Linked DNA regions of Homo sapiens. The protein of the gene in region 1 interacts with the protein of each later gene in a pairwise test. Each region holds a gene or a part of one and is shown in the gene's direction. Other genes may lie near its edges. The genes, in order: TSPOAP1, NDE1, BEND5, DLX2, KIF1A, ARNT2 and DLGAP2.

The links.
Region 2: the proteins of TSPOAP1 (region 1) and NDE1 interact in a two-hybrid assay, tested with the Homo sapiens proteins (one large-scale study listed by BioGRID).
Region 3: the proteins of TSPOAP1 (region 1) and BEND5 interact in a two-hybrid assay, tested with the Homo sapiens proteins (one large-scale study listed by BioGRID).
Region 4: the proteins of TSPOAP1 (region 1) and DLX2 interact in a two-hybrid assay, tested with the Homo sapiens proteins (one large-scale study listed by BioGRID).
Region 5: the proteins of TSPOAP1 (region 1) and KIF1A interact in a two-hybrid assay, tested with the Homo sapiens proteins (one large-scale study listed by BioGRID).
Region 6: the proteins of TSPOAP1 (region 1) and ARNT2 interact in a two-hybrid assay, tested with the Homo sapiens proteins (one large-scale study listed by BioGRID).
Region 7: the proteins of TSPOAP1 (region 1) and DLGAP2 interact in a two-hybrid assay, tested with the Homo sapiens proteins (one large-scale study listed by BioGRID).

What each region holds. Positions count from the first base shown.
Region 1 is NC_000017.11:58,318,796-58,322,295, reverse strand, and holds part of TSPOAP1 (peripheral-type benzodiazepine receptor-associated protein 1), read left to right. Parts: intron 1-1,714; coding exon 1,715-1,765; intron 1,766-2,166; coding exon 2,167-2,187; intron 2,188-3,001; coding exon 3,002-3,206; intron 3,207-3,500. UniProt on the Homo sapiens protein: Required for synaptic transmission regulation. It probably controls the recruitement of voltage-gated calcium channels to the presynaptic membrane, and modulates neurotransmitter release.
Region 2 is NC_000016.10:15,688,245-15,691,744, forward strand, and holds part of NDE1 (nuclear distribution protein nudE homolog 1), read left to right. Parts: intron 1-2,899; coding exon 2,900-3,079; intron 3,080-3,500. UniProt on the Homo sapiens protein: Required for centrosome duplication and formation and function of the mitotic spindle. Essential for the development of the cerebral cortex.
Region 3 is NC_000001.11:48,731,892-48,735,391, reverse strand, and holds part of BEND5 (BEN domain-containing protein 5), read left to right. Parts: intron 1-3,500. UniProt on the Homo sapiens protein: Acts as a transcriptional repressor.
Region 4 is NC_000002.12:172,100,101-172,104,145, reverse strand, and holds the start of DLX2 (homeobox protein DLX-2), read left to right. Parts: upstream 1-1,245; 5' UTR 1,246-1,607; coding exon 1,608-2,007; intron 2,008-2,499; coding exon 2,500-2,684; intron 2,685-3,201; coding exon 3,202-3,603; 3' UTR 3,604-4,045. UniProt on the Homo sapiens protein: Acts as a transcriptional activator. Activates transcription of CGA/alpha-GSU, via binding to the downstream activin regulatory element (DARE) in the gene promoter.
Region 5 is NC_000002.12:240,719,220-240,722,719, reverse strand, and holds part of KIF1A (kinesin-like protein KIF1A), read left to right. Parts: intron 1-63; coding exon 64-264; intron 265-835; coding exon 836-913; intron 914-1,681; coding exon 1,682-1,806; intron 1,807-2,793; coding exon 2,794-2,946; intron 2,947-3,500.
Region 6 is NC_000015.10:80,578,882-80,582,381, forward strand, and holds part of ARNT2 (aryl hydrocarbon receptor nuclear translocator 2), read left to right. Parts: intron 1-1,148; exon of another isoform or gene 1,149-1,529; coding exon 1,530-1,668; exon of another isoform or gene 1,669-2,357; coding exon 2,358-2,523; exon of another isoform or gene 2,524-3,500. UniProt on the Homo sapiens protein: Transcription factor that plays a role in the development of the hypothalamo-pituitary axis, postnatal brain growth, and visual and renal function. Specifically recognizes the xenobiotic response element (XRE).
Region 7 is NC_000008.11:740,628-744,127, forward strand, and holds part of DLGAP2 (disks large-associated protein 2), read left to right. Parts: intron 1-3,500.

The sequences.
Region 1 (3,500 bases):
TGAGGGAAGCTGGCAGGCTGCTGGACACCAGCTTTGCCACTCACTCATTCCACAAGCATTTACTGTGTGCCCGGCACTGTGCTAGGCGTCGGGGAGACTGTGGGGAACAAAGACCAGGTCCCTGAGCAGTCAGCAAATTAGCATCCAGGAGTGAGCTGATTTCAGACACTGATGAGCACAGTGGTGGAGAAGAACAGGGTGATGTGACAAAGTGACTGGGATGGGGTGAGGAGCCACTTTAGAGGTCATCAGGGAAGGCCTCCCTGAGGAGGTGACAATTGACCTTGCCAGCCAGGAGGTGTAGACATGCACATGCTCTGTGGCAGGGAAGAGCTGAAGAAGCCTGAGACCAATGTGGCTAGAATACAGCAAGGGATGGGCAGCGTGGTGGGAGTAGACAAGAACCCGATCCTGTCGGGCCTTAACGGCCATGGGAAGAGTTTGGGTATTTTGCTCTGTGAGTAGATAGAAGCTCCTGAAAGATCCTAAGTGGGGGAGTGACATGATCTGAGTCATAATTTTACAGGATCACATGGCTGGTATTATGGAGGGTGGACTGTGGGAGCAGGCGTGGAGCAGGGCCTGGGCGGTGGCCTGGGAGGGAGATGGTGGCTGTCTGGACAGAGATGCATGCAGTGGAACGGGAGACAAGTGCCTGGGTTTGAGTTATGTTTTAGAGATAGAACTGACAAGGTTCTGGCCGGGCATGGTGGCTCATGCCTGTCATCCCAGCACTTTGGGAGGCCAAGGTGGGTGGATCAGTTGAGGTCAGGAGTTCGAGGCCAGCCTGGCCAATATGGTGAATCCCCGTCTCTACCAAAAATACAAAAATTAACCTGACATGGTGGCGGGCCCCTGTAGTCCCAGCTACTCAGGAGGCTGAGGCAGGAGAATTGTTTGAACCCGGGAGGCAGAGCTTGCAGTGAGCTGAGATCGTACCATTGCACTCCAGCCTGGGCGACAGAGCGAGACTCCATCTCAAAAAAAAAAAAAAAGAATTGACAAGGATCCCCGTGGGATTCCAGTTGAATCCCTTCTCTGACAGCCATTTGCTGTATAAACCTTGGTGGAGGGTGGGGCTCTTCATACTCCGTGAGGTGAAGGATGAAGGGGCAGCAGATCTGAGAGGTAGGTCATCCCGAGTGCTGAGTTCCATTTGGGCCATGTCTGAGCTGCGCGTTAAACATTCAAGGGGAGCTGTCCACAGGCACTTGGATACATGAGCCTGGGGTTATGGGTAAGTTGGTCTTGGAGATATTTGGAGCCACCAGTGTGTTTAGTTGTATGAGTAGATGGGAGCCCTAGGAAGAGAGTAGACAATATAAACTGGGCCCAGCACTGGGTCCAGGGTAACCCTAACATTCAAAATGGGGGACAGGGAGCAGGCAAAAGAGGCTGAGAAGGAGCATCCAGAGAGGTAGGGGGGAAACTGGGAGGATGGTTGCTCAGGAAAGAGGGGAGCTGACTCAGCCACGCTTCTCCTGGTCCCCTTTGCCTTCTGGTCTAAGGTATGGTTCAGGGTGGGTGTTCAGGAGGGAGAAACCCTTCGGCCTCCCCCTTCCCTATCCCTCTTCCCTCTCTCCCTACCCTTTTCTTTCTCCCGGCTTCTTCCTCCCCTGCCTCTGTCCTTTCTACCCTTCCTCCCTCGCAGCCCTCTCTACTCCACCCCATTCCTTCTCCTTCCCTCCAGTATTTTGGTTCCCCCCACCTGTAGGCCCAGGCTGAAGCCCAGAGGGAACATGAAGGAGCCGTGCAGCTGCTGGAGGTAGGGCGCCTGGAAGTGGCCCCCAGTTCCACCATCTTGGGAGGAAGGCGGGGGTCCTCCAGATAGAGCTGAAATGGACTATGGCGGTGGGGAGAGGGGTTGCAGGAGGGGCCCTTAAATGCTCCAGGACCTGGGGGAGTCCCCTCCACCACTGGCCTATTTCTCAGGGTGGGCACGGCTGGGCAGGGGGCTCCCAAGTCTGGTGGCAGCAGTCTCCCATTGCTGCCACCCCCAGAGGCTGCCTTCACCCTGAGATATCCTTCCATTTAGGAACTGCTAGTCAGTCCAGGGAGCTGACTGGATGATATCCACTTAGGCCCCCTTCTCCGCCTCCCTCTCTGGGTTAGCAACCCACAGCGCTCAGGGTTCTAACCTGTTCTCTGCTTCCTTTCCTGCAACAGTCTACCTTGGATTCCATGCAGGTAGCGCCTCGTTCTCCACTTCCCCACACCTCTCCAGGCTGGCTGAGTTGCATCTCCTCCCTCAGGGCCCAGGCAGTCCCCCTCTCTCATCCAGCAGAGGGGGTGTCACTGGGAGCAGGCATGAGAATCCATAGGGGGTGGAGTTCCCACAGGACACGTGCGGCTGTCCCCTTGTCCCAGGCCTGCCGCCGTGTCTGTCAGACACTGGGCCTCCCCTCTCTAGCCACCCTGATCATGAGGAAGTTCATCACCAGTCTAACTTAGGAGCCTCGCCATAGTGGCCGGAGAGAGCCCCTGCTATTGGGACTCTCCTCAGACCTGAGAAAACTTCCCGGGCATTGGCCCATTCCCATCACGAAGACATCCCTGGCTCCCCTGTGGAATTTCCTGCCCGCCTCTCTCAGGGAACGGGTTTGAGTTGCTGATTGTGGGAGGGTGATGAGCAGTGGAGCTGAGAAAACTCCTGCGGTGATGGTGGTGATGATGGGGTGGGAATGATCCCTGTTGGCCTAGAAAGCAGCCAGAGGCAGAGGTGCCATCGCCTAGGGCCTGAGGGTTGGTGAGTGTGTGGCAGGCCCCGGCCTTGGCTCTGGAGGGGGCTGGGGTGAAGATGTCCCAGGACACAGCCCAGGACTTCACCCTCCGCTCTGATGCATTAAGGACAGTGGGGTGGCCAAGGCAAGGCTGGTGCCCAGGCCTGGGGCTGGGTGGATGGATATGACCTGAAACCCAGTGTAGGGCTGTGTACAGATGGCACGGGCTGGCACTGGGTAGCTTTGAGGGGCCTGGCGGCTCATGGTGGGTCTTGGCCCAGGCCCGGGTTCGAGAGCTCGAAGAACAGTGCCGCAGCCAAACCGAGCAGTTCAGCCTCCTGGCACAGGAACTCCAGGCTTTCCGCCTGCACCCGGGCCCCTTGGATCTGCTCACATCTGCCCTGGACTGTGGGAGCCTTGGAGACTGCCCACCACCCCCCTGCTGCTGCTCCATTCCCCAGCCTTGCCGGGGGTCTGGCCCCAAAGGTAAGGTGGACCCCAGTGGCATTGGCCTGGAATCCCCAGGCCTGGGCTTTTGGATAGAGCAGGGAGTTCAGGATCAGAGAAGGCCAGCAACTCATCCAAAGTCACACAGCAGGTTAGAGCTGTGCCTGGCTAGAACCACGTTCTGTTGGGGAAAAATAAAGCCCAGGGGAGTGACTGTCCCAGAGTCTGGCCCAGGCATCGTGGGCCACTGCTCCTCTCCTTCCAAAAGGACCTGAATGGTCAGACCTAGGGGTTGGGCACTAGGAGTCAGTAGCAGGCAGTGTGGCCTTGTGC
Region 2 (3,500 bases), on another chromosome or scaffold:
TTGATGGCAACCAATATATTTGGCTAAAACTTTGAAACCTCATCAGCATTTGCTCTTTTTCAGTTGGCACTTCCAGAGGTAGAATGTTGAAACTGTAATGAGGCATTTGGCCAGGCACAGTGGTTCACACCTGTAATCCCAGCACTTTGGGAGGCTGAGGCAGGTGGATCACCTGAGCTCAGGAGTTTGAGACCAGCCTGGACAACATAGAGAAACCCCATCTCTACTAAAAATAGAAAACATGAGGGTATGGTGGTGGGTGCCTGCAATCCCAGCTGCTCAGGAGGCTGAGGCACGAGAATTGCTTGAACCTGGGAGGTGGAGGTTGTAGTGAGCCAAAATTACACCATTGCACTCCAGCCTGGGTGACAGAGTGAGACTCTTGTCTCAAAAAAAAAAAAAAAAAAAAGACATTCATTAGTGGATTGTCCAAGTTGTTTTTACCTTTTTTTTTTTTTTTTTTTTTTTTTTTGAGATGGCGTCTTGCTCTGTTGTCCAGGCTGGAGTGCAGTGGTGCTATCTCTGCTCACTGCAACCTCTGCCTCCCAGGTTCAGCGATTCCCCTGCTTCAGCCTCCTGAGTAGCTGGGACTGCAGGTGTGCACCACCATGCCTGGCTAATTTTTATATTTTTAATAGAGATGGGGTTTCACCATGTTGGCCAGGCTGGTCTTGAACTCCTGACCCCAGGCGATCTGCCTGCCTCGGCCTCCCAAAGTGCTGGGATTATAGGGGTGGGTCACTGTTGCTGGCCCAATTAATTATTTATAACGTCGATTTGCTTTCTAATGTGTAACCAGTAGGTGGGGGATAAAAAGTAAAAATTCTTAAGTTTAATAAAGTAGTTGTTCCTAGATGTCCATCAGTAATGAAGTGGTTAAATGAAGTACATAGATGTATTTTGTGAAATGTTAATGGTTAAAATGAACAGTAGATAGAAATGTTGTGGTAGAAAGATTGCCAAGGCTAGGCACAGTGGCTGATGCCTGTAATCTCAGTGCTTTGAGAGACGGACGCAAGAGGATTGCTTGAGCCTAGGAGTTCAAGATGAGCCTGGACAACATAGTGATACCCCATCTCTACAAAAATGAAAATTGTAAAAATTAGGCCTGGTGGCATATGTCTGTAGTTCCAGCTACTTAGGAGGCTGAAGTGGGAGGATGACTTGAGCCCAGGAGTTCAAGGTTACATTGAGCTATGATTGTGCCACCGCACCCCAGCCTGGGTGACTGAGTCAGACCCTGTCTCTAAAACAAAAATCATTGCCAAGACATACCACTGAAGTGGGGAGAGTAAGTCATACACAGGACAACATATTGTATGTTTCCAGTAATGCTTAATAAAAAATTTTCTTGTTTTATGCTCAGTAGATACATACATATGTATAAAGTTTATGTTTGAAAATGGAGAGAACAGCTGGGCGCAGTGGCTCACGCCTGTATTCCCAGCACTTTGGGAGGCCAAGGTGGGTGGATCACCTGAGGTCAGGAGTTAGAGTCCAGCCTGGACAACATGGTGAAACCCTGTGTCTACTAAAAATACAAAAATTAGCCAGGTGTGGTGGTGCGTGCCTGTAATCCCAGCTACTTGGGAGGCTGAGGCAGGAGAATCACTTGAACCCGGGAGGCAGATTTACAGTGAGCCGAGACTGTGCCACTGCACTTAAGCCCGGGCAAGAGAGTGAAACTCCATCTCAAAAAAAAAAAAAAAAAAAAATTCAGAGAACAATGGTTGAAAAGCTCTCCCACATGTTATGGTGATGATGAGTGAGGAGGAGCATTTGGGGATAGTCTGGAAAGCATACTTTATTTATTTTTGAGACAGTCTTGCTCTGTCACACAGGCTGGAGTGCAGTGGCGTGATCTCAGCTCACTGCACTCACTGCTTGTCCCCCAGGCTCAAGCGATTGTCTTGCCTCAGCCTCCCAAGCAGCTGGGACTACAGGCGCTCACCACCACGCATGGCTAATTTTTTGTATTTTTAATAGAGACGGGGTTTTGCCATGTTGGCCTGAAAATTCCTGACCTCAAGCAATCCTCCCATCTCGACCTCTCAGAGTGCTGGGATTATAGGCTTGAGCCAGTGCAACTGGCCTTTTTTTTTTTTTTTCTTTTTTTTTTTTTTTTTTTTTTTTTTTTGAGCCAGAGGTCTCACTCTCGCCCAGGCTGAAGTGGTATGATCATGGCTTACTGCAGCCTCGACTTACTGGATTAATGTGATTCTTACACCTCAGCCTCCCAAAGTGCTGGGATTACAGGCATGAGTCACTGCTCCCGGGCATATTTTCATTTAGTGTTCTAAATACACTGCTATGTTGGAATTGTTTTTTCAATAATAAAAGCATTAGTGTGTCACTGTCATAGCTTTTTAAAAATCTGAAACCATTTTGTTAGTCAAGAGAAACATCCTGTAGAGTTCCAAGTCTGCTAGGCAAGGTCCTGTGGGTTTCCCTTTATTTGGGGTTTCTACCTGGAGTGTTTCACCCCAGTAGGTCTTTTTTCTGACTGGTATCTACTGTTGAACCTCTCTCCCTGCACCCCACCAACCCTAAGCAAGGACTTAAATTCCCTTTTTGTTTTTTGAGACGTAGTCTTGCTCTTGTCACCCAGACTGGAGTGCGCTGGAGCAATCTCAGCTCACTGCCACCCTGGCCTCCCAGGTTCAAATGATTCTCATGCCTCATCCTCCTGAGTAGCTGAGATTACAGGTGCCTACTACCATGCTGGGCTAATTTTTGTATTTTCAATAGAGATGAGGTTTCACCATGTTGGTCAGGCTGGTCTCGAACTCCTGACCTCAGGCGATCCACCTGCCTTGGCCTCCCAAAGTGCTGGCATTATAAACATGAGCCACTGCGCCTGGCTGAGGACTTGAATTCCTGAATCCTTTTTCTGGCACAGATTTGCGGCAGGAACTGGCCGTGCAGCAGAAGCAGGAGAAACCCAGGACCCCCATGCCCAGCTCAGTGGAAGCTGAGAGGACAGACACAGCTGTGCAGGCCACGGGCTCCGTGCCGTCCACGCCCATTGCTCACCGAGGACCCAGCTCAAGTTTAAACACACCTGGGAGCTTCAGACGTGGTAAGGGGAGTGGGAATTGCAGGATTTTCTCGGTTCACAAAGTGTTTCTGGGTAAGAATCTGGGGTGGGTCCTGGGGGTGTGATGATTTGCATCAGGCTCAGAGCCTGATTTGCTCTCAGGCTTTGAGCAGAGAGTAGACTGGGATGTTCTTGGGGATGGGCATTGAGATCAGTGAGGACTGGGTAAGAGGCAGTAGTGGAGTCTGATGAAATGGAAACCCCACCCAGAGCGGGTGGCTGCCACTCTGCAGCTACGAGGATTGGCCCTTCATCTGCAGCTTTTTCCATTCTTCAAAGCCAGAAATCCTCTTTTTTTTTGTTGGGTTTTTTTTTTTGAGACAGGATCTCACTCTGTTGCCCAGGCTGGAGTGTAGTGACGTGATCTTGGCTCACTGCAACCTCTTCATCGTGGGCTCAAGTG
Region 3 (3,500 bases), on another chromosome or scaffold:
TCCCTCCATCCATCCATTCTTTGCCAGGCCCTCTAATGGGTATTGAAGACACAAAGAGGGGTAAGACACAGCCTTCATCTGCAAGGAGTTCATATTCTCACAGGGAAGATAAACACAAAAACAACTAGTTACTCTACAGAAAACACAAACTATAGAGACAGACCATGGTGTAGAGGGAGCAAAGAGAATAAAGTAGTTGCTAATTATTTTAGGCACTTAACTGTGTTTCAGGATTTAGGGGTTTTTGTTAAATGGTTCTCTTTTAAAAAACACTTTTATGTATGTTAACTCATTATCCTCATAGCAACCCTACTGTTGGCTACTATTATAATTCCTATTTTACGGACAAGGAAACTGAGACACAGAAATGTTAAGTAACTTGACCAGGTTATACAGCTAGTGGGAGGAGAGCCAGGAACCCGAGCCAGCAGGCTGTCTTCAGAATCTGTGCTCCTAACCACTGACTAGTGTCCAGGTCTGCCATGTCTTCATAAAGAAAGTAAGACTCAGTCAGTCAACACATATGTTTTCAGCAGACTCTGGGGGCAGACAACAAATATGTCCAGGAACAAGCTCGATAACTTCAGGTACTGTGAGCTTGCTCATATGATGTGGTAGGACAGAGAGGGCTGCATTCACTGGGGTAGTTGGAGAAGGTCTGTTTGAGGAGGTGACATTTGAGCTGCAATCTGGATGTGGAAGAAGCATCTTTATAATGGTCTGAGGGGTGGCAAATCAGGCAGAATAAGCAGCAGGTATGAAGGCTGGCATGCTCCGGGTGTGAAGAAGCCCCAGATGGCTGGGATGTAGAAGGAAGAGTGAGGTCAGGGAGGTGGGCGAGAGCCTGTCTTGTAGGGCTGGGAAGGCCACAGTAAGCAGCTTGGATTTGCTGGAGTCAAAGGGCAATGGAGGTCTTCCAGTCATGGAGTGACCACATGGGAGATGAGTTACAAAGCTGATACAGTGCTCTTGGTGAGAGATGCTGCTGCCATAGACTAAGGGCACAGCAGTGGAGGTGGAGAAATATGCCCAAGTGTAGGGTGTATTTTGGAGTTCAAGGTGGCAGGACATAGGGTAAGCAACCAGCCTGAGGTCAAAGCTATAAGGTTTCAGAGCCTAGATTCAAACACACACCCGCCGACTCTGGTCTGGGGCTTGTTCTGCTGTAACATAGCTGCCTCCCTTGCCTGGCTGACTCCGGATTAATTGATTTAGGCAGCCGCTTATTTTTGGATAATCAGAGGTAACCTTTCGTCTTGCTGCTGTCTGAAATGGTAAAGCCTGATTTGGGAGGTCACCCTGAGAAAAAGGCCATCCTGGGGATGCAGCCCTGCCCTGCCCTGCCTGGTAGGTGACCGACCTCTAATTCTGCTATGTTTGTTGGAACGTGACTCAGGAGGTCCTGGGTGCCTTCAGATAACTGTCTATTCCTGCCATTATCACATGGTATAAAATCATCTGCTGTGTGTCTCCTTCAGGGATCTGGGGACTGTATCTGATTCATCTCTGTGGCCTCATTTCCAAACATAGTGTCTGGCACATAGTAGGCACTCAGTAAACGAAGGTTGAACAGAAGAAACACAGAGACCCACAAGCTGATCGCCTGACCAAATTTTGTGTGATTTCTTGTAAATCACTTTCTCTCCATGTTTCAGATTTCTTAGCTGAAAACTAAGCTGAAATCATCTTACCTCGTAAGATAGTCAGGGCTGCCTAGGATTGTAGCAGTGCAGCAATGTAGAAGAATACACCTCAGCCATGCATGTGGCTTGGGCCATTACACACTCCTTAGCTCCAACCCCAGCTGGAACTCAGCATCATCTGCCAAGTTGTGTGAGTTTCCCTCCCTGATCTACTACCTCATTTTCCAAGCCGTTTTTAAATTTTTTTACTTTTTCCAAATATGATAGTTCGCATCAATCAAAGAGATAGGCCTTGTCTCTTCTTTCACAGAGGAAAATAAAGGAATTTCCACAGTTTTGAGGCATCACACCTACAGACTTAACTATGTCCTCCATTTTCCTGCCTCCTGTCCCAAAGGAGTTCCTTATTTGGGGCTGGTGATTCTCTCCATCTGGGCTCTGGATTTCAGTCCACCTGCCTTCCTAAGTACCTTGTTCCTTCAGTTATGCTCCTGCTCTACTACTGGTTCCTTCCCAGCATCATGTAAATATATTTGATCACTCATTTCTTACAAAAGCAAAGAAACCCTCCTTAAAGGGCACTCTGTCACCCAGCTGCTATCATATCTCCCTTCTTTCACATGCAGGCTCCTGGAAAGACGAGCTACACCCACTGTGTGTGTTCCCTGGTAATGCCTTTGCCATTTGCCTTCCCCTCCCAGCCTTCTGCTTAATGTGTTTTCACCAAGGTCCCCAGTGACTTCCTCGTCTCTAAATCCTTGTGTGTTTCTCACAGTCTCACTGGCACTGTTTGACACGATCATTCCTCCTTCACTGAGAAACCTGTTCTGCACGCTGGGGATTTCTTCCCATCTCTCTGGTTTCTCAGTCTCCTTGATGGGCCCTCTCCTCTGTGTCCAGCCATCTTCTCGCTGATCCTACCAAGCACTCCTCAGCTTCTCTCCTCACTTCCTATTGTTCCCATTGCCTTCAGTGTGCCCTTGACTTTGGGTTGAAATCTGTACTCCTCACCTGTTACAGATGATCTGCCTTTGGGACGCCTCTGACCTCATCTTATACCACACTTCCCATTTGCTATTGTGCTGTAGCCCTGGAGGCCTTCTTCCAGGTCCTTTCTGTTGCTACTCCCTTGCTCCTGATCTGCGTGCCCTCCCTCCCTGTCACTGAGAGAGGCCTCCCCAGCCACTCAGTCTAAAGTAGCCTCTCCATTGCTGTCTGTCACATCACCCTACTCCAAGTCTCTGCATAGCATTTCCTATTTACTTTTTTTACTTGTTAATTTTCTTTCTTCTCCCACTTCCATTAGAATTAAACTTTATGAGCATCTTGTTCAGGGCTAGCCTATAGTAAGTGCTCAATAAATATTTGTTGATTCAATGAATGATGATTCCCAAATCTGTATTTGACTCAATTCACACTTCTGATTTCTTGATCTATGATCAAAGTGCCCACTGGTTATCTCTTCACAGATGCCCACATGACATTGGCAAAACTGCACTGCTCACTTCTCTCTCTTTCTTCCTCTCCTTCTCTGTGAAGCCTTTGCCTCTTCTATGTTCCCTGTCTTGGTGAATAGTACCACCAGCCAGGCACCCAGGTCTCATCCTTGACTCCTCCACATCCCTCACTACCCATCTGTTTGGCCCCAAATCTCTCTTAAACCACTGCTGATCCACTCCCCCATTTTCTAAGCCATTTTAAAGTTTCTCTACTTTTTCCAAATATGGAGAGAACCATCTGCATCTCTCCACAGTACTGCCCTTCTCATAGCCCACACTCATTTCTCCCCTCCATTACTCTGGCAGCTTCCAGACTCCTCTCTCCATTATGTAACCAGAGCAATCTTCAGAAACCAGA
Region 4 (4,045 bases), on another chromosome or scaffold:
ACAATTTTGTGGCTTTTAATTACTATTTTGTTCTTTTGGGGGGTTTCAGAGGCTGGCGCCTGGGCGTGATTAGACCGTCTACCCCGCCCCCCGCAACCTCGCACACTGCCCACCAGGTGGCGCCACAAAGCAAGCGCTGCCGCAGGAACTTCGGACTTGGGAGTCCAGCAAGTCGTGCAGTCCATCACCGTCGGGCCAAGGTTTCCAACTACAAGGTTATAGAGACAGAGGAAGTCACCATTTCCGATTTTTTAAAAAACAGAGGGAAAAGAAAAAAATTGCAATGATAGGGTAGAACAGGGTCCTAAAATGCAAAACTGTAAAACAGGATTAAATTCAACAAACCAGATAAAACTTTTTATATTTGTTGTAAATTTACAGAGAAGTGATAAATCTAGTATCTACTTGATAAATCTATAATCTCACCTATTATCCTATTTCCTTTTTCGCAAGAGCATCGAATTTTCAAGGACAACTGGTGAACCTTTCCACCCGAAGGAGGAAGTCCTCGGGATGGCTTTCAGGGTGTCATTTACTTATCAAACGTATATAATTACTCAGAGTCTCGCGTGTCGGGAAAGTACCAGGGAAAGTGGTTTCAAATATACTATTAGCAATAATACCTTTAAGTTTATGTAGCTTCTCTTTGAAGCAACAAGGAAAACCCGTTTCAATATTATATGATTAATTGTCCTAATATCCCTGCGGATTGGTTAAGAAGCGAGCATTACACGTGGTTTGTGGATAATTAAATCAATTGATTATGTCAAGTGCCGAGTGGCTAACAAGAATAAATGCCAGACACTTCGAGGAAAAGTGAAGATAGAGCTGGCTGGACTCTGGGCACCGATGTACTTTAATGTGTTTGAAAACTGACCTCGGACATGAAAGTACGAATCACTGGAACTGGCACTTGCTCACAGAATGGGAGAGGGGACCCCACTTCTTCCTCTGAGGCAAAACGCCAGTCTGTCTCCACGCCTTCTGTCTTCCTGCTGCGGGCCACCCTGACTCCTCGCTACCTCGACCCCTCGCCTCGCTGCTCACATTCGGCGGCAGTCTGTTTGCACCTGGGGCCGCTGCAGCCGCAGCCGCAGCCACAGCGCCCACCATGTGACGCCCGCCCCTTGGCCGGGCGTTCCCGGAGCTCCGCGGCCGTTTGCTTCTGATTGGCTGTTGCTAGGTGACGTCGCCAGCGCTCACGTGACGAGTGTTAAATGCCCACACTTCAGGAGCCCGCCTGGCAGACAATCGTAAAGCCGCTCGGGGCCGCTCACCTGCTCCCGCCTCCCAGAGCCCCGACCCGGCCCAGCCACCCCTGCCCCCTCCACTGCCCGCCCCCCGCCAGAGCCCGCGCTCGCGCTGGGCAAGGAGCCGAGCGGGCCCAGAGGCCGAAAGAGGATGCGACCAGAGGCAGCTGTCCCGAGCAGCGCACGGTGATCGCCTCCCCCGGAGGAGGAGGCGCCTAGACGGTTGCCTCCTTTCTTGTTTCCCCACCACCACCCCCGTAATTACATTGGCTGCTGGAGGGGACCGGGAGAGACAGAGGAGGCGCCTGGCTTCCCCCGCACGCCCGCCACCTCTGCTCTTTCCCGTCTCGGGCCAGGATGACTGGAGTCTTTGACAGTCTAGTGGCTGATATGCACTCGACCCAGATCGCCGCCTCCAGCACGTACCACCAGCACCAGCAGCCCCCGAGCGGCGGCGGCGCCGGCCCGGGTGGCAACAGCAGCAGCAGCAGCAGCCTCCACAAGCCCCAGGAGTCGCCCACCCTTCCGGTGTCCACCGCCACCGACAGCAGCTACTACACCAACCAGCAGCACCCGGCGGGCGGCGGCGGCGGCGGGGGCTCGCCCTACGCGCACATGGGTTCCTACCAGTACCAAGCCAGCGGCCTCAACAACGTCCCTTACTCCGCCAAGAGCAGCTATGACCTGGGCTACACCGCCGCCTACACCTCCTACGCTCCCTATGGAACCAGTTCGTCCCCAGCCAACAACGAGCCTGGTATGCATAACGCTGAAGTCAAGAGTGCCGAGTCGGTCTAGTTAATGGGATGGATGGGTAAACGTGTTTGGGGCGGGGGGCCTTCGAAAGCTCTGGATTTTCACGCTGCCTGCTCACCGCCCGCTTGTGCCCTTTACCCTCCCCAGCCTCCAATCTGCCGCAGGTCGCCGGTTACGTCCCTCTCTCCTTTGGTAGGACCTGGTGGCCTCAAGAGCCAAGTGGGCGTGCTCTGCCTGCCTCATAAGGGCATCTCCTTGCCACCAGCTTCTTTCTCTTGGGTGTGCACTTGTCTCCCCCTTCCCTGGAGGGTACAGCTCCCGGGGTCGGTGGCGGCTCCGATCGCACGCTGCGAAGTTGCGCCTGCCCGTGGCGCCACAGTTCAGTGCACCCACCTCTTTGCTCAAGCCAAGTCCCCCCCGCCGGGCCCTCTAGGAGGGCGGGAACTCCAGGACCCCTGGGTTGCGCTGTTCTTACGATTCTTTATCGTTGCAGAGAAGGAGGACCTTGAGCCTGAAATTCGGATAGTGAACGGGAAGCCAAAGAAAGTCCGGAAACCCCGCACCATCTACTCCAGTTTCCAGCTGGCGGCTCTTCAGCGGCGTTTCCAAAAGACTCAATACTTGGCCTTGCCGGAGCGAGCCGAGCTGGCGGCCTCTCTGGGCCTCACCCAGACTCAGGTGGGGCTCGCGCCCTGCAGGGGCGAGGAGAGCGCGGGCCTGAGATGGCTGGGAAGCAGGCGGGTTTAGGACAATGCTTTTTAAAGTTCATTTTAAGTACTTTTAAGGATTTCCAGGCCTGCGCCTCGAGCGGCCCTAAGTAAGCTTCTAGGCCCAAAGCTGGAAACCCCCAAGGGGCCGCCGTGGGAGGGAAGGAAAGGGACCGGGTGGACAGAAATCCCGTACCTCTCGCTACTGATTAAGCGGGTGAAATAACTGGCCCTCCTCACCCTCCCGCTGTCACCATCATCACAGTGCACGTACACCAGCAGTCCTGGCCTTTTGGCAATTACCTCCCCAGGGAGCAGGAACCGGCAGAGCCTCGAAGGCCGCCGCCCGTGATCCTCTTATCTCCCCAGGGCGCTCGCTGCCCACCGCTAGCCAGCGGTTTTTCTCTGCCTTCTTTTTTCTCCTCTTCGAACCCCTACTGCCCCAAGACTAGGTTCCTCCACTAATGCTCAGGTCTTTTTCCTCAAAGGTCAAAATCTGGTTCCAGAACCGCCGGTCCAAGTTCAAGAAGATGTGGAAAAGTGGTGAGATCCCCTCGGAGCAGCACCCTGGGGCCAGCGCTTCTCCACCTTGTGCTTCGCCGCCAGTCTCAGCGCCGGCCTCCTGGGACTTTGGTGTGCCGCAGCGGATGGCGGGCGGCGGTGGTCCGGGCAGTGGCGGCAGCGGCGCCGGCAGCTCGGGCTCCAGCCCGAGCAGCGCGGCCTCGGCTTTTCTGGGCAACTACCCCTGGTACCACCAGACCTCGGGATCCGCCTCACACCTGCAGGCCACGGCGCCGCTGCTGCACCCCACTCAGACCCCGCAGCCGCATCACCACCACCACCATCACGGCGGCGGGGGCGCCCCGGTGAGCGCGGGGACGATTTTCTAACCCCAGGGAGAACTCGCCAGAGACTGAGAGCAGAGACCACTTATCCTCATTGCTTACCCCGAGCCGGGGTTCCCTCCTCCCGGCCCGCTGCCGCCACCCACCTCTCCTGCAGGCTGCGACCTGCAGTGGCCCGTCTCAGGCCCTGCTCACTCCCGGGGCCACCAAACGGGCCCCTCTCTCGGGGGAACCGGACAGCAGCTTGGCAAAGGCCTCCCTAAAAGGCCGCATTTCTGACCTGAGCCCCGGGTCTCGGCTGTTTCGAGCCCCGCCTCGGACTTGCCTTCCCTCCCCTCCGGGTGAGCCTGTCTGGCGCCTTCCTCGCCCCGGGCTGAGAGCTGGGTCCCGGGAGATGGAAGCCTCCCAGGCGCGCGAGGCTTCCCGGGCGCTCTGAGGCTTCTTTCTCCTCGCCCGCTCCCCTGGGCTCAGCTCGGACGCTGCAGTT
Region 5 (3,500 bases), on another chromosome or scaffold:
TGAGCACAACTCCGGAGGTCACCCCTGAGGTGCAGCAGGTAAGGCCTTGTGTCCTGTCTGAAGGTGGAGAAGACTAGGCACTACCTGCTCCTGCGGGAGAAGCTGGAGACCGCCCAGCGGCCTGTCCCGGAGGCACTGTCCCCGGCCTTCAGCGAGGACTCTGAGTCCCATGGCTCCTCCAGCGCCTCCTCCCCGCTCTCGGCTGAGGGCCGCCCATCACCCCTGGAGGCTCCCAACGAGAGGCAGCGGGAGCTGGCCGTCAAGGTGGGTCCAGCTGGTGGGCAGTACAGCCGTAGCCCCAGGCCCTCAAGGGCCCTGAGTCATTTCTGGGCAACTCCAGCAACCCGGCCTTGCCCATGGCTGCTCTGGTTAGCACCACCAGGAGCTAGGAGCTTGAGGGGTCCCTAGGGTCCCCTTGCCCACTGACTGCACCCCACCTGCACTGAAAGTTGGGTGCCTTTTGCAGCCTCCCTTCCCAAGCGATGAATCACTCTCTTGAATACCTGTGCTGATGGGGAGCTCACCACTTCCACCCACAAGTGGCTCTTTTGGCGGCTGAACGGGCCTCTGGGAAGGCTTCCTGCGCCTCCTGCACTGGAGGCAGCACAGCCTCTGGCCCTCACACCAGGCCCTCAGCCGGTGCCTGACCCTGGGAGACTTCCTGGGCTCACCCGATGACCTGGGCGGGGTGGAGGTGCTGCCCACCTTGACCCACTGTGCTCTGGCGTCGGAACCCACCTGTGTCTGGGGAGGGGTGGGTAGAAGAGCCTGCAAGGCTGTCTGAGCAGGGTCCCGGGAGGCCTGGCCCCTGACCACGCGTGTGCTCTGTCCACAGTGCTTGCGCCTGCTCACGCACACATTCAACAGAGAGTACACACACAGCCACGTCTGCGTCAGTGCCAGCGAGAGCAAGGTGGGTGCAGAGGGGCTGCACCAGGCTGCCCCGCAGGGCTCGGGCTCCCATAGGCAGTGGTCCCTGAGGAAAACTCCCATTCCAAGTGGGAAAAGGCAGTTAAGAGTTTCCTAGGAACACGTCTCAGTGCAGAGGGACACCTCATACCTAAGTGGCTGGTTTCCCTGGGTCGGCCTGGGGTCCATGGGAGGTGGGGATGTGAGTGAGGGGCCGGGTGGGTCCTGTGGCCTTGGATGCACCCATGCACTTGCAGGCTTCTGCTGTCTTCCTGGCCCCCACCCTGTCTGGCCATCACCCTGTGGCCTCTGGCCCAGTCAGTCAAGCTCCCACTTGGCTGTCCCTCCTCCTCCTGGGACCGACCCCACCCCTGTAGCCTGGGAAACTGCTGCTGTGCTGCATTATGCGTGGAGCTCCAGCCCTGGCCCATGGCCTTCCTTGTCCCCATGGCATCACCCAGCGCCACCTCACGCTGGCATGGGCAGGAGGCGGCAGGGCAGAGCTTACCCAGCCCACTCCTCGAGGCATTGGCAGGGTGGCTGCCTGGGTCAGGCCAGAGCCTGAAGTGATGGGAGGGGCCGGCCAGGGGCCACAGGGGCTGGAGGGGGCCGGGGGTCTTGAGCTGGCCAACTTTGAGCCAAGGCTGCTGGTAGGAGGGGTGGGGTGCCCTAAGCAGCAGGTGTGGGGTAAGCGCAGGCACAGGGAGCAGCTCCCACAGAGGCCGGAGACCCCCCTTCCCTGTGTCCCCTGAAAAAGGCCTCTCCTCCGCAGCTCTCCGAGATGTCTGTCACCCTGCTCCGGGACCCGTCGATGTCCCCTCTAGGGGTGGCCACTCTCACCCCCTCCTCCACTTGCCCCTCTCTGGTTGAAGGGCGGTACGGTGCCACTGACCTGAGGTGAGTGAGCTCCAGGCTCCCGGAGTGGCTTCTGGCACCACGGCTGACCCATGACCATGGCCGTGACTCGGGCACAGAGAGCACAGAACAGGGGGCCCCAATGGCCGAGTGCCTTGGGGTGGCCACAGGCTGAGGGAAGGGCCTGGAGGAGTGGAGTCCGCAGCCCTCTCAGAGGGTGCCTGTGCCCCGCCAGCTCCATCCTAGTGTGTGTGTGTTCTCTTCCCTGAAGAAGACCAGAAATGGGTGGAAAATAAGCTAAAGCTCCCCTTTCCTGAGACAGTGCTTATAAAATAATGGAAAAAGAAAAGGTTACGAAAGAGGGCATGAGAGCCGTTAGAGTCAGTATTGTGGAGGGGACACCTGGCCCCTGCAGGTCCGCATTTGGAAGAGACCTCGTGTGAACCCCTTATGTACAATTCATAAGCAGGCAGATGCTTTTCACTCTTGTTTTAAGCGCCTTAAGGGTTCCAGATTTTCATTTAAATAAGAAAGACGGTGGCATCAGCTGGCCTTGTCTTCTGCAGGCCTCCTTGACCACCAGGTCGAGTCGCGTGGGGCCTGGCCCATGTGGGGGGCCCATGCGGGAGGCCATCGGCACCCTCTGCTCCAGTGGCTCCTTGGAACCTCGTGTCACCTTCAGTCTAGTTGTGGAGATGAAGAGATGCTGGACTTGCTTTCACAGGGTGGAGGTGGGGGCAGGAGAGCCACTGGGAGAAGGGCGTGGAGTGGGGCACAGGCTCCCTGGCTGGGCCCCGAGGTTCCTGGGGGACCCTGCCCACCAAGCCCAGCACTTCCTGGAATCGGGCACAAGCTTGGCTATCCTGGTGGACGGGCCCCGGGAGCTCCCACTGTGGGCACAGCTGGAGAGACCCTGCGAAGGTGCCCTACTGCACCTTCTGAGGTGCTCTGAGGAGGGTGAAGCCTGGGGGAAGACGGCCCCAGGCCCAGGGAGGCCTGCAGTGGGCAGCACTTCCCTCTGCTTCCCAGGACCCCGCAGCCCTGCTCCCGGCCAGCCAGCCCAGAGCCCGAGCTGCTGCCAGAGGCCGACTCCAAGAAGCTCCCTTCCCCTGCCCGGGCAACAGAGACAGACAAGGAGCCCCAGCGCCTGCTGGTCCCTGACATCCAGGAGATCCGAGTCAGGTGTGTGGGGCCTCCCTGGAAAGCACCGCCACCAGCTCTGTGCTGACAGGGGACAGGCAGGCCACCCTGCTCCCCATACTGGGGGCACAGGGACCCTCATACTTGGGGAGACAGACAGGTTGCCTGATGCCCATACTGGAGGTTCAGGCAGGCTGCCCCTGACCCACATGGAGGGACAGCTCCATGCTGGGAGGTCAGGCAGGGCCCTGTGACCCACATGCCTAGGCTGGGAACCAGCACAGAGCACAGGGGAGTGGGTGGGGTCAGAGCCAAGGCCCAGGTGGGGAACTCGTGGTCACTGGGTACAGTGTGACAGCCTTCAGCAACTTTAGCTTATTTCTTTAAGTTTTTCCATTTTATGGTGGGGAAACTGAGGCCCAGAGCTGGCTTGGTGGTCTGGTCTCCGGCCTGCTGGGTTGGGGTTCTGCCAGGTGCCCTTCGATGCCTCGACCCACTTTCTGGCTGGGGAGGTGGTTGGCACTGCTGCGTCCCAGCTCTGGGTGGTAGATGGTGAGTGCCCGAGTCAGTCGCTGCCCCCACCGAGGGCCCCAGCG
Region 6 (3,500 bases), on another chromosome or scaffold:
GGATGGGGTAGGCTGTGGGATGAAGGACTCTGGGGCCCAATACAGCCATAGGGAATCCTGGGCCGCTTGCAGAATGGTGTTGCTGGCACCTGAAGTGCATCCTCACCCACAGTCCTCCCTCTCTGGTCCCGCCAGTTTTGGCCCCTGCCTGTCCACACTAAGGCAGGCAGCTGTAGCCCAGAGGCCCCCAGGGAGGGCTGTGCACAAGGGCTGGCGCTTTGCCCCAAGAAGCCCATCCCTTTCTGCCAAGGCGCCTTTCCTAGGACCGTCTACGCTGTAGCGGCCCTCATCAGTCAGTGTTTTGGGGAGGACACCAAGGGCTGGGGGCTGTGGAGAGGGTCCTACTAGACAATAGTGACCAGAAAATGTCCTCTGAAGCAATACTTTCATCAGGAAGGAGAATGGGAAAGGAGCCCTTATGTTAAATGAGGAATTGATTGTATGAAGACAGAAATGATGTCCCCTTTATATAAGCCACTGAACTTGTTTTACAATGATCAGCTCAAGAATGTCTCTGACATTCTTGGTTTCTCCCTATTTTAAAAGGGATCAGATAGCATAGGAAACTTATTAGAATACAATAGTAAAATTTTACCCAATCTCTGCTGATCTCTGGCTTGCCTTTTTTTTAACACGGAGCTGAAAATCTACCAAAGCCTTCTGTGATGAGCCCCATTCTGCCCTACTTGACTGATTCATGGGCACCCAGCGCACTGCCCTGCATGCTGAGCTAGTCCCAGGGAGGCAGGAGGAGGGGCCTGAAACAAAGTAAAAGTCTGCCCCCAGCCTTTTAGTCTTTGATGAGCTTCTCATGTAATCGACATAGCCTGGAAAATCTCCTGGAAGAAGCGCCTGGTGGTACAGACAGTGCCTGCCGAGGAGCTAAGCAGGGTCAGAGATTTAGCCTGCAAAGGCCATGCAGAGAGCACGGCACACAGCAGGGGCCTAATAAAGACAAACTGAGTTAAGTCGAAGGTGAACTGAAGGTGGGAGGGGTAAACTCTGGGTAGCAGGACTAGGCCCCATCCAGCAGGTTTTCATTGAGAAGCTTTTCTTTCCGTTTAAAACTGACAGCCTGCAACCTATTTCCTGAATCCTTAAGCCTCATAGGTGCCCCAAAGGAACAAATTAACCAGAGCACAAAAGAGTGAGTGAACAGTGGGACTGATTTTTATTCTAAGAAGCTTCTCTCTTTCTGGGAACCAAATCATCTGCTGAGAGCAGAGGATGTACAGGCATAGGATAGGGGCTGAAGAGTGCGTGGGAGACCCTGGGGAGAACGAGGAGAGGAAGTACCAGACTACTAGACATGGCAGGACTACTCAGCAGTGTAGAGGAAGCCCTGAAGGGAGAGGAGGACGGCCAAGGGGCTTTGAGGCTCACGATGTGTGAGTCATTTTCTCTAGTGACGTGCTGCATGGAGAGAGAGCCAGGAAGATGGCCCAGGGCAGATTGTGTGGTTGGCTGGGCACGTAGACTCATGCAAACCAGGTGTGTCCTCGGGATAAATGCATTTTCCTCTTTTCTAGCTCTTCAGTGGTTCATGTGCCTGGAGTGAATGATATTCAGTCCTCTTCTTCCACGGGCCAGAACATGTCCCAAATCTCCCGGCAGCTAAACCAGAGTCAGGTGGCATGGACAGGGAGTCGTCCGCCCTTTCCGGGACAGGTATGGGCATCTGTGAGGGCATCTCCCCTGGGTGACCAGAGAGGCAGAGCACTCTGGGAAGTGTTTTCTTTGGATTGCGGTTCTGAGGATGGGTCGGCTCCTAGCTGGAACCAACCACCCTAACAGCAGCTGGCTACTCAGGAGCACCATCCACCCTCAGGGCTCTCGGAGAGCCAGGTGCCCAGCCTGCAACTTCAGCAGCCTTTTCTCCTTACAGCCATGCCCTGAGGCAGCTGGCAGGGAAAGGTTGGGCAGGTTGAGACACCTCATCAAGAATGAGCCCCTCACTACTCTGGACCTCTGGCTGCCCCTGCGCCAGGAGGGCATGAAACCACCAACCCTTGTGACATCCCCAGACCCTCATAGTCACTGTGAGGGTGGGTGTTGATTGGGCTGAGGGAGTTCTAGGTGTTCATAATGCCAAGGCCTTGGTAACCAGACTCCAGAGGGCCCGGATCCTCGTAGCCCTGGGGAGTAACTTCAACCAGACGTGCCCCAAAGATCCTGCAGTTCCTGGGCCCTCACACACCGGGCTGATCCCAGGCCTGTGCCTAGCCAGACAAGAGGGTCATGGGGAGTCACTGTCAACCCAGAGCAGGCACTGCCCCTGCGACCAGCCTGGGGCATCGGTTGGGGTGCAGGGGTCTGCTGGTGATGCTTTCCATCTCTTTGCTTTGTCCTGATTGTAGCAAATCCCATCTCAGTCCAGCAAGACTCAGTCATCTCCCTTTGGGATTGGAACGAGCCACACCTACCCGGCAGACCCCTCTTCCTACAGCCCCCTCTCCAGCCCAGCTACCTCCTCGCCAAGTGGGAATGCCTACTCCAGTCTTGCCAACAGGACTCCAGGGTTCGGTAGGTGGGGAATGAGGGAGTGAGATTCTGGGAAAGCCAGCACAAATGCTTTCTGAACAGCCTGAATTCAGGAGGCTGAGCTCCAAGCTCCCAGCTACCAAAACAAGGTCTGGAGGTTTCCAAGCACCTCCTCTCTCTCTGGCTATGAGGAGGCCTATGGTGTTCCTAAGAGACTGGATGCTTAGGCCTTGGCTTTGTGATTTGACTTTATCATTTTCAAGGCATTGGGATGATGTTGCTGTGCTGTGAGGTGATCTGAATACCATTTTAACCCATTATGGCCCTGGCAAGGATTTTCAGGTCCCCCAAGTCAAAAACCTTATAGTCTTGTTTCAAGAAACTAGAGAATAGCTATAGAGACAATCAATTGCATAAATAACACTGCAAAGTTTTCTGTCTCTTTTAAATATTAAAAACACCTATCTTACTTTGTTAACAAAACCTCAGGCCATAGAGGGTTAAGGAACCGCTGTGTCCTGTGCATTTCTCAGGATCCTGGGCCTTGCCCACTCTCCGTGTGTGTAAGGAACCTCCTCAGCATGTCTCCCAGGGCTAGGGTTCCACTCCACGTCAGGACAAGCTCATAAGAGACCCGTGGTCCTGGTAAGAAGTCCAAGCTGGTGCCTGCTTTCTCACAGTGAGGTCACTGGGTGACACCCAGCAGTGCGGCTCATAGAGCTTTTCTCTACAGAATTGATTCCTCAGATGAGCGTGAATCTGAGCCCAAACATCTGAATTTCCACGTGGCAAGTTAAAAGCTTCCATTAGAACTGCTTGTCTGTCAGCCTTATGAACAATTCTGTGCAGGCAGGGCGCGGTGACTCACATCTGTAATCCCAGCACTTTGAAAGGTCAAGGTGGCAGATCACCGGAGCCCAGGAGTTCAAGACTAGCCTGGGCAACATTGCAAAACCCTGTCTCTACAAAAAAAAAAAAAAAAAATTAGCCAGGTGTTGTGGTGCATGCCTGTAATTCCA
Region 7 (3,500 bases), on another chromosome or scaffold:
AATTCTGAAACTAAAGTGCTCTAATATCTTTTTAAGGGTGAGAGGATTTTGTTTTGTTTTATTTTGAAGATATCATCTTCCATAATGTTGAAATTGAAGAAATGCTATAATTTTTTTATTATATAACTGTATTTGAGGAAAAGCTTCATGACTCCTCAGTTATCCAAGGAGTTGAATGATGTATACTTTGATTATAGATTTTAAAATGAAGTTGATTAAATATTCTATTTATTGACCCTCAGGATGGATGCTCCATGGTCATTCATTGGATACAATAAAAATAACTATGATTCATCATTTTGGCCAGATGGGAGTCATATTTAGAGCATTGCCATCATGTTGGTTATAAAAGAATTACAGGCTGCCATACAGGAAGTTAGTAGGCACACTTTCTATGCAGTTAAAAATTATTCTTAATCAACCGTAGTTTTACCAACTAGTTTTCATCATACGAGGCTTTCTAGTGCCACTAACTTCTTCAATATGTTTTGTTGTTTCCTGGGTACTTGTGCGTACAAAAACTGAGCATAGTGATTTCACGTGTGCTCATGACAAAAGACTTTAATTTCTAGGGAAGTTAAGCAGATGGGCTTTGGCATTGACCAGGCATGGGGTCGTAGGGTGTGCAAACTCTAGTTTAAATCTTGCATCTACTGGTAGCCACCTTTCCCTTCCAAGGCTTAACAGCAGTAACAAATTAATCTCCTCAGCAAAGGCAGTAGGAGCTCATTTGTAAAGCTCTGTTTTTCTTTTTTCATGTCATTCTTCTGTGCACTGACTTCATCTGCCTATGAAAATCTTCTCCCAGTCCTCAGGTCATGGGCCTTGACATGCAGTCCCTTAACTTTAGCTCCAGGAGAGGGGCCTGGGTGTTCTGACATCCCGGTGATGGGTGTCCGCTGCAGGTGCACCTCTCCTGACTTGATGGCAGTGTCTTCATGTGGGATGTCAGTTGCCTTAGTTCTGGAAGTGTCCTGTCTGTATTTATTGGCGGGCCTTCAGGAGTTGAGCTTTCTAGACCCGTTACTGCAGACTCCAGTGTATTTGCAGTTCAGTGTACGCTTCCCTTTCCAGGCAGCAGCCAGCTCCCCTTAGGGAACACCTGCCACCTCATGGGGTTGGCTTGGCGGACCCTACTTCCCGTCAGAGGTGGCTCCTGACTGGCCGGAGCCCTAACTCCCTCTCAAGAGCAATTGGATGAGTGAAGAGCGGGAACTTTCAAGGAGAGGAAAGCTTTAGGAAAAACAGCGGGAAAGGTGTAAGGCCTGCAGTTGTGGCATCAGTGCACAGCCTTGCAGGGATGGCCTGTCTGGAAATGACACCTTCCTCATCTGTCTGTGGAGGAGAAGGGCGGCTGTTATGCAGAGAGCTTGGTCCTGAGGATGCTGTTGGAAGCTCTGAACTAAGTTATGCCTGAACCATCATTACCCCGTGACTTTCAGTTACATAAACCAGGAGATTGTTTCTTTGAACTGAGTTTTCTGTCCCTGACAAGCAAATGGGATGTATGGGCTTTTAGTTTCTTCAGACATTTCCACATTAAACCTCTTGTTGCAGGGAAAGGCTTATTCATCTTCGGGTACTGTTTCTTATATGGTACATCGTGTGTATCGGCAGGAAAAAAAGAGAAAAATTTAAATCAACCATTTTAAACAATGAATAAACATTTGGAAATAGCCCATCTGTAAACTTGTGTTAAAAATTTTTAAAGTAACCTGTGAATCTGACTGATCGTTGTCTTTAAAATGTTTCATACTCTGTACAAAAGAAGAAAAATGGGAATGATCTCAAGGGTCCATAGAGTATGTATTTTAAGTTAGGCGGTATTGAAAAACATCCTTTTGTGTGTAACGAATGTTTGTCCTGTGACTTTTGCACAGCATTGCAAGTGGCTTTTTAGAGACAGGGTCTCCCTCTGTCACCCAGGCGGGAGTGCACTGGCATGATCATAGCTAACTGCAGTCTTGACCTCCTGGGCACGAGTGATCCTCCCACCTCAGCCTGTCTAGTAGTTGGTGTATGTCACCGCACCCAACTAATTTTTACTTTTTTTTTTTTTGGTAGAGACGGAGGTCTTGCAGTGTTGCCCAGGCTGGCCTTAGATTCCTGTCCTTAAGGAATCCTCCTGCCCTGGCCTCCTCAAGTGCTGGGATTACAGGAGTGAGTCACTTTTCCCAGCTGCATTTGGCTCTTTATTTGACCTCACCGTATTTCAGTTTTCTCATCACTAAGAGTGGGGCCAATGCAATATTAACTTGATAGGGTTAAGGAGGATTAAATGAATTCATGACTGTAAAGTGATAAGAATGGTGCACGTAGGAAATGCTGGATTAGTCTTGACTATTTTTATCATGAAAAAATACAATTGAGGCCTACTTTGAGTCAGTCCACAATGGAAGTTATCAAGCAACTCTTTGATTTCTCTCAAAACTGTTTTATTTATTATTTCTGGTCTTGTTTTACTTTTTTGTATATCTCTTGCCACTTTCCAAAAAGTTTTGGACCCAACTTAACCACAGAAGGACAAGGGAAAAAATGCTAATTAGAAAATAGAAATAGAAAATCGGAAGAAACACATGTGATAACCATGAGGATGGATGTAATTCTCTGGGCATCACGTTTGACACTGAGCTTCCAGGGAGTCAAGTCAACAAAACCCAAAACTACAAAGCCATGTTCAACCTGAGGATCATGCTTTCAGGGTAGACGTTGCATACTCATTTTTTGGTGAAGATAAATTTTCTCTGGCACTAACTTGTAAGAGATGTTCTGAGGGTAGATCTTATATTCAGGGGCTGGGGTTGTGTAATATATAACAGTTAAAAATACAGAAGTATTTTTTAATGATTTTGTCTTGATTTGGTTTCTTTGAAATAAACCAAAAGCAAAACTCACATGCACAGCCTACCCTCAGCACTGATGACCTCTTCTTGGTATTTATTTACTTACTTATTTAGAGACGGTCTCACTCCTGTGTTTCAGGTTGGAGTGAGTGGCATAATCTCAGCTCACTGCAGCCTTGACCTCCTGGGCTCAAGCGATCTTCCCACCTCAGCCTCCCGAGTAGCTGGGACTACAGGCGTGCACCACCACACCCAGCTAATTTTTTGTATTTTTAGTAGAGATGGGGTTTCACCATGTTGTCCAGACTAGACTCTGACTCCTGGGCTCTAGCCATCAGCCTACCCCAGCCTCCCAAAATGTTGCGATTGTGGGCATGGGCCACTGCGCGATGCCTTTTGCTGGTATTTGCATGTGATTTCCGTGGCCGGGTCTTCATGTCTGGATCACTCACTAAGCTACTGTGGTTTAGGGCTGAAGACGTGGATTCACGTCGTGTGTCCTGCAGACAACAGCAGTTTCTCAAGTTTCACGTGCCTTCACGTTTCCTCTGAGTCTTTGCATCTAAATGCCCAGACACCTGTTTTAGCTGAAGGAAGTGACTTGTTCTGGTGGCCGTGGCAGTCTATGGATGGAGCCATCATCGTGGTTCTCTCAGA